Homo sapiens: one gene and its partner. The protein of the gene in region 1 interacts with the protein of each later gene in a pairwise test. Each region holds a gene or a part of one and is shown on either strand. Other genes may lie near its edges.

Region 1 (3,819 bases):
ATGAAATCCACAGCCAAATCTGTCCAGGTGAGTTCAGGGTGAGAGCCAGCAAGGAGGGTGGCTGAGCAAGTCACATGATAGTTGTTCAGCAGTGTCTGAGCTGTCAGGGCATCTGAGGCTGTGTGGACAGAGCCTCCATGTATCCCTCTCCCCACACAAAAGCTCTTTCTCCTTCGGGTATTTAGAGGAACATCTGCTTCGTTATCGCGTCTTGGATTTCATCACTGTTTATTTTTTATTTATTTTATTTTATTTATTTATTTTTTGAGATGGAGTCTCACTCTGTCACCCAGGCTAGAGCCCAGTGGTGCAATCTTGGCTCACTGCATCCTCTACCTCCCAGTTCAAGCGATTCTCCTGCCTCTGTCTTCCCAGTAGCTGGGATCACAGGCACCCGCCACTACGCCCAGCTAATTTTTTTGTATTTTCAGTGGAGACGGGGTTTCACCAAGTTGACCAAGATGGTCTCAAACTCCTGACCTCTGGTGATCCACCTGCTTTGGCCTCCCAAAGTGCTGGGATTACAGGTGTGAGCCACCACACCCGGCCTCATCACTCTTTATTTAATCTAGGTTTGATTTGTTTTTCTCAAGGTTTCTTCCTTTTTAGGATTCTCAAATCTCATCATTTCTTGTTCCCCCATCAGAGCATCACTACCTGTTCCTTCTACTTCTCTTGCTATGAAATTCCTCCTTCCATGTCTGTCTCCAAAGAGTGGTCTTGGATATCAGCACTCTCTCCTGACCACTATACCTTTCTGCCCCTTTAGATAATGTTGATTTTTTTTTTCCAAAGGTCTTCCCACCCTATCTTGGACTCTGTGCCCCCTTAGTAACCTGGTCTGTTGCTTTGCATATATTTGCTTCCTTAGCTTCTCTTTTTTCTCCCACTCTGAGGTCCTCCAGAGGTTCTGTTTCCCATTTATTTTGCTCTGTTCTCATATCCTTTAAAAGTTTCCTTCATTCTAATGACTTAAGTTCTTGTTCTCTATGGAGATTCTCAGATTGACATCTCCCTTAATATTTCCTAACTTACATGTTTGTACCTATTTTTTACCCACTTGCATGTCAACTCCTTGAGTCGATCCTGGCCACCACAGGGTTACCTTGAAACTTCCCTGCCTCCTCAGCTACCGTATTTAAAGTCTTTGCTCTTTCAATTGATTTTTGAAGTAGTCTCATTCTCTTTCCAACCCAAACCAGATTACTACACCTCATGCCTGCTTTGCTTCAATTTCCTTTTGGAATCATTAATTCTGCCTATTATTTAGTTTCTCTTAAATTATATTGCTGGACTTATTCCCTTAAAGCTTTTCTGTTCTTACCATAGTCTGATGGCACTGAGTCCCAGTGAATCATAGCAGTCATATAAGATGGAAATTTCTCATCTGTCAGGTGATATTCTAGTTGAATCACCATGATATGGTATCATCTTGCCTACACAGAGTTTGTTTTCCTTTTCCTTTTCATAAATTCAAAGCCAACTATATATAAAGCACTACATTTGAAGTAGTTTCCGCAGTGTGTCCCTTACTTTCCTTGTTTCATTGCCTTAAATATTTTTTGATAGACTATTACATATGGGCCCTGACAGCTGTGAACATCAATAACAACAACAAAATTCTTCTTGGAGATTACCTGCTAAAAGGAAGAGGCACAAAATTAATCAAAATGGATAAATGTCTTGTGGTGAAAAATGCTGGGAAGACCAATAACAAAGTATAATGAGGGATGCCGGGAGTGGGAATGGCTGTTTGGTCAGATGCCTTTGAGCAGCTGTATGACAGACATGAATACGTCCCCCTGGTGAATTACCTTCCAAGTAGACAAAATAGCAGGTCCAAAGGCCCAAGGCAGGTGTGTGTTTGAGGAACTTCAAGGAAGCCTGTGTGAATACAGAGGAGTGAACAAGAGGGGCAGTGGTCGGAGATAATACGGAAGTAAGGACAGTGTGGTGGGATCTGGAGTTTGGGGTAGACAGGTCATGTATGACCTTTCAAGGACATTTTAATGACTTGATTTTTTTTTTTTTTTTTGGCACAGAGTCTCTCTCTGTCTCCAGGCTGGAGTGCAGTGCTGTGATCTCAGCTCACTGCAACCTCTGCCTCCCTGGTTCAAGCGATTCTCCTGCTTCAGCCTCCCAAGTCGCTGGGACTACAGGCGTAAGCCACCGCTCCTGGCTACTTTTTGTATTTTTAGTAGAGACAGAGTTTCACCATGTTGGCCAGGATGGTCTTGATCTCCTGACCTCATGATCCACGTGCCTCGGCCTCCCAAAGTGCTGGGATTACAGGCGTGAGCCACTGCATCCGGCCATGACTTGATTTTTTAAAAAATTATGAGATGAGGAAACATGAGGGAGTTTTGAGTAGAAGAGTGACATGATGTCATTTATATTTAAAAGGATCACTTTGACTACTTTGTAGAAAGTATACAGGAGAAGGCAGAGGTTGAAGCCTGAAGTCCACTTGGGAGGCTATTGCTATAGTACCAGAAAGAGTGATTCTCTTCCATCTAGGTAGAAGGGGTGAGTGTTAGTGAGTTTCAGAATACAGGAGTCCCCTGTTATCCACAGTTTCTCTTTCTACAGTTTCAGCTACCTGTGGTCAACTATGGTCTGAAAATGTTAAATGGGAAATTCTAGAAATAAACAATTCTTAATTACATTGCTCACCATTCCAAGGAGCATGAAATCTTGCACCATCTTGCTCCATCCTGGAACAGGAATCATTTTTTGTCCAGCATATGCATGCTGTGTACCCTACCCACCTGTGTCACTTAGTAGCCATCTTGGTTATCAGATCAACTGTCAAGGTATCACAGTGCTTGTGTTCAAGTAACCTTTGTTTTACTTAATAATGCTTCCAAAGCTCAAGAGTGTGATGCTGGCCTATTGTTATAATTCTTCTATTTTATTATTTGTTATTGTTAATCTCTTGCTGTGCCTAGTTTGTAAACTTTATTATAGGTATGTATGCACTGTACAGGAAAAAACATAATGGATATAGGGTTAAGTATGATTCAGAGTTTCAGGCATCCATGGTGTGGGGGGTGTCTTGGAACATATCGCCCATAGATGAGGGATTACTGTATATTTATAAAAGACATAAGGAATTTACTACTGAAGTAGACAAAGGGTGTGAGACAAACATACAAATGAAAGATGATAGTAAGGTTTCTGGCATGAGTCCGAGCAGGAATTAACTTGCCATTTCCTGAGAAATTTACCTTGTTTATACACTGACTGCTTTTATTTTTTGTTTTCTTTGTTTAAATTATAATGGTTTATTCTTGTCCAAGTGACAATAGGCATATCTACTTGGAGTTTTTTAAACAGTGGAAATAGTGTGGTCAGTAGAGCCAGCCTGTACAAGACTGTTTGTGAAATAGTTCTATTCCATGCTCATGGAAAGATTTATTGTTCTCTTCTTTCCTAGAAATCAAGAAAGTTGACAATCATCTACAGATGCACTCACAAAAGCAAAGATGTCTGAAGAGAGTGGAACAATGCCATAAACATAATGCATTTGGAAACATCATTCATCAGAGGAAAAGTGATTTTCCTTTAAGGCAAAATCATGATACATTTGACTTACATGGGAAAATACTGAAATCAAATTTAAGTTTAGTCAACCAGAACAAAAGGTATGAAATCAAGAATTCTGTGGGGGTTAATGGAGATGGGAAATCCTTCCTTCATGCCAAGCATGAACAATTTCATAATGAAATGAACTTCCCCGAAGGTGGAAATTCTGTGAATACAAATTCACAATTCATTAAGCATCAGCGAACTCAAAACATAGATAAACCCCATGTATGC
Region 2 (3,096 bases), on another chromosome or scaffold:
GGGGGTGCTCTCCCTCCACCTGCATTCCCTCACCATCCTCTGGGACAGGGCGGGGGGTTCGAGGAGAAATGAGGAGCTTTCCTTCTTTCTACACACATGATGTCACTCCCTCCCACAGAGCCCAGCAGCTCCTAGAAGTTCAGGAGAAATGCCTGCCCTCCAGCCGGCACCGAGGCCCCCGCAGTAATGTGAGCACGGCTGGGCAGGTAGTGGGTGGGGGGCCCCAAGGGTGGGGTCCAAAAGGGAGCTAGCAGGCTCTGTTCTCTGGCAACCTAGGAAGACACTCCCTCCCTCCTTCCCTGGTGATTTAATTGGTCATCTACTATGTGCCCAGCAAACAGAACAGCAGAGCTCACCGTCCAGGGTAGTTTAGAGATGAAATGAGGTAAAGCGTGCCTAGTATGCAGGAGTACCCCTGGTACATAATAAGCATTTGACAGGCTGGGCACAGTGGCTCACGCCTGTAATCCCAGCACTTTGGGAGGCCGAGGTGGGCGGATCACAAGGTCAGGAGATCGAGACCATCCTGGCTAACACGGTGAAACCCCGTCTCTACTGAAAATACAAAAACAAAATTAGCCGGGCGTGGTGGCGGGTGCCTGTAGTCTCAGCTACTTGGGAGGCTGAGGCGGGAGAATGAAGTGAACCCGGGAGGCGGAGCTTGCAGTGAGCCAAGATCGCGCCACTGCACTCCAGCCTGGGCCACAGGGCAAGACTCCGTTTCAAAAAAAAAAACAAAAAAAACAAACCAGCAGTCATGTCCCCTTTTCCAATGCCTGGATGGTGGCTGGGCTTCGTGGCCAGCGCTGCTGTGCACATGGGCAAGTGAGGCTCAGAGCCATCAGATAAAGGAAGAGCGAGGGCCCCAGCCAGGCAGCCTGCATTCGACCCCAGCTCTGCCACCTATCAGCTGTGTGACTTTGGACAATCACCTGAACCTTCCTTGAGGCTTGTTTCCTCATCTGTAAAGTGCGGGGGTTGTACTGCCTGTCAGGCTGTGCGTGGCAGGAGATGACTTCCGTGAGTTAGTGCCCCTCAGGGGCTTAGTGAGTGTCTGTCATGTTGTAGGCATTTGAGACCTGTCAGGTATTGGTAAAATCAGTGCCATCTTTATTGGTTTCATTAATTTTTCTACCAAGGTCACATTGCTAATTCATTGGAAGAGACCCTAAAGTTTGCCTCGTATGTGACATTTGGTTCCTCTTGGTCTCTGGGCCTCAGTCTCCCCATCTGTAGCTTGGGGGGTATACCTAAGGCTCCTCCACCAGGCTCAGACGGGCTGGCTTCCCGGGGGCCACAGGGATGGCTGCTCTCATCTGCCTGGGGGACTGTGCTGGGCTGGGGAGGGGCAGGGGAGGGCCTGGTGGAGAAGGACATCTTTGCTGACCCAGGCTCTTCTGGCAAGCCTGGACCACAGTGGCAGTGGGGCCCGCTGTGCCAGGGGTCCCGTTTCCTCCTCTCCCTGAGGGGGCGGGGCTGAGCTCTCAGATGCTCCTCTGTCCCTGCACCCTCCCAGCTGAAGAAGAGAGCCCTGGACCAGCTGCGGCTGGTGAGGCCCAAGCCCGTGGGGGCGCCTGCAGGGGACTCCCCGGATCAGCTGCTGCTGGAGCCCTGTGCAGGTGAGTGCGCGGGGGCAAAGCTGTATCCCGTGTTGCTCCCATTGTCCAGGGATGTGTGCAGCTGAGTGTCCTTTAGCTTGGGTGGCCTCTTTGGCCTGGAAGGGCCTGTTGTGAGGGTTCCAACAGGAGTGGGGGTCATGCTGGGGGCCTGAGAGACAAGACCACCCCACCTGCCATGGTGATTGCCAAGGTTGAGGGAGACCCTGCGGGGAGGTGCATGCAGACGTGGCTGTGACTGTGGGTTTGCACACATACTGGCTTGTTCTTTTCTGGCAGAGTGTGTGTAGTGGTGCTTCTCACACGTGTGTGGTGGCAGGTGCTGTGAGGACCCAGGGGGGTTCCCGGAGGCAGTAGGGTGAGGCCTTAGGCCAGACAGGTAGAAGGGGCTGGGGGAGCTCAGATGAGGGAGTAGCAAATCTGGGGCAAGAGGAGCGGGTAGTTAGGGAAGACTTCCTGGAAGAGAGGGAGTTTCCGCGGGGGCCTTCAAAGTTAAAGAGGAGTTCGTTCCAGGCAGAAGGCACAGAGGCATGGCTGTGTGTGGTGTGCTTGGAGGGTGTTGGGGACAGCAGGTGAGTATTGAGTACCAGCTCTGTCAGGCATTGGGGACGTGACTGTCCCTGCCCTCATGGAGCTTGCTGTCTAATTAGGGGGTAGAGAGTCAGATAATCCCACCTATGAACACAATGAGAGAGTGTGAGGTGTGCAGTGGAGAACTGGGGGCCGTGGGGCACATGCCAGGGGCCCTGATGTCTGGGGACCAGGGAAGGTGTGACCTAGGCTCTGAAGGGAGGGCAAGGGTTAACTGGGCTGAGTGGTGCAGGGCTGGGGCTTTGGGCAGCCCCAGGGCATGCAAAGGCCCTGTGGTTGGACGCAGCTGAAGGGAGAGTGGAGGCTGGTGGTGTGGGGTCAGTGGCTGGCAGCCTCCCCAGGCTCTCAGGCAGGACTGTGTCACCCACGTGGGGGATGTGGCTTTTATTCCTGAGAATCTGGGAAGTCACTGGTGTGTTGAAAGCAGGGGAGTTAACATGATCTGATTTGCTTTTTAAAGCCTCTCTGGCTGCTGGATGGAGAATGACCCGTAGGGGGCAGGGATGAGGCAGAGAATCAGGGAGGAGCCTACTGCCACCGTCGGTCCTACTAAGGGTGTGTGTGTGTGCATGTGTAGGAGGAGCAGCAGCAGGACTTAGGAAGGGATGGGTGGCGGGGTGGGTTTTGGGGTATCGACGAGCTGGTATGCTGCCTGCCTGTGCCCTTATCTCTTTTGCGCCCCTCCCCTGCCACAGAGCCGGAGCGGAGCCTCAGACCCTACAGTTTGGTGCGGCCGCTACTGGTGTCTGCCCTGCGGCCCGTGGTGCTGTTGCCTGAGTGCCTGGCGCCCCGGCTCATCCGTAACCTGCTAGACCTGCCCAGCTCCCGGCTGGACTTCCAAGTGTGCCCAGCGGGTGAGACTATGTGCCGGGGAGGGGAGGCTGGGTGC

Evidence for each region.
Region 2: the proteins of ZNF613 (region 1) and CARD10 interact in binary tests that used the Homo sapiens proteins (3 or more experiments, as listed by UniProt).

The regions. Positions count from the first base shown.
Region 1 is NC_000019.10:51,940,683-51,944,501, forward strand, and holds part of ZNF613 (zinc finger protein 613), read left to right. Parts: coding exon 1-27; intron 28-3,436; coding exon 3,437-3,819. UniProt on the Homo sapiens protein: May be involved in transcriptional regulation.
Region 2 is NC_000022.11:37,492,609-37,495,704, reverse strand, and holds part of CARD10 (caspase recruitment domain-containing protein 10), read left to right. Parts: intron 1-118; coding exon 119-188; intron 189-1,516; coding exon 1,517-1,619; intron 1,620-2,902; coding exon 2,903-3,061; intron 3,062-3,096. UniProt on the Homo sapiens protein: Scaffold protein that plays an important role in mediating the activation of NF-kappa-B via BCL10 or EGFR.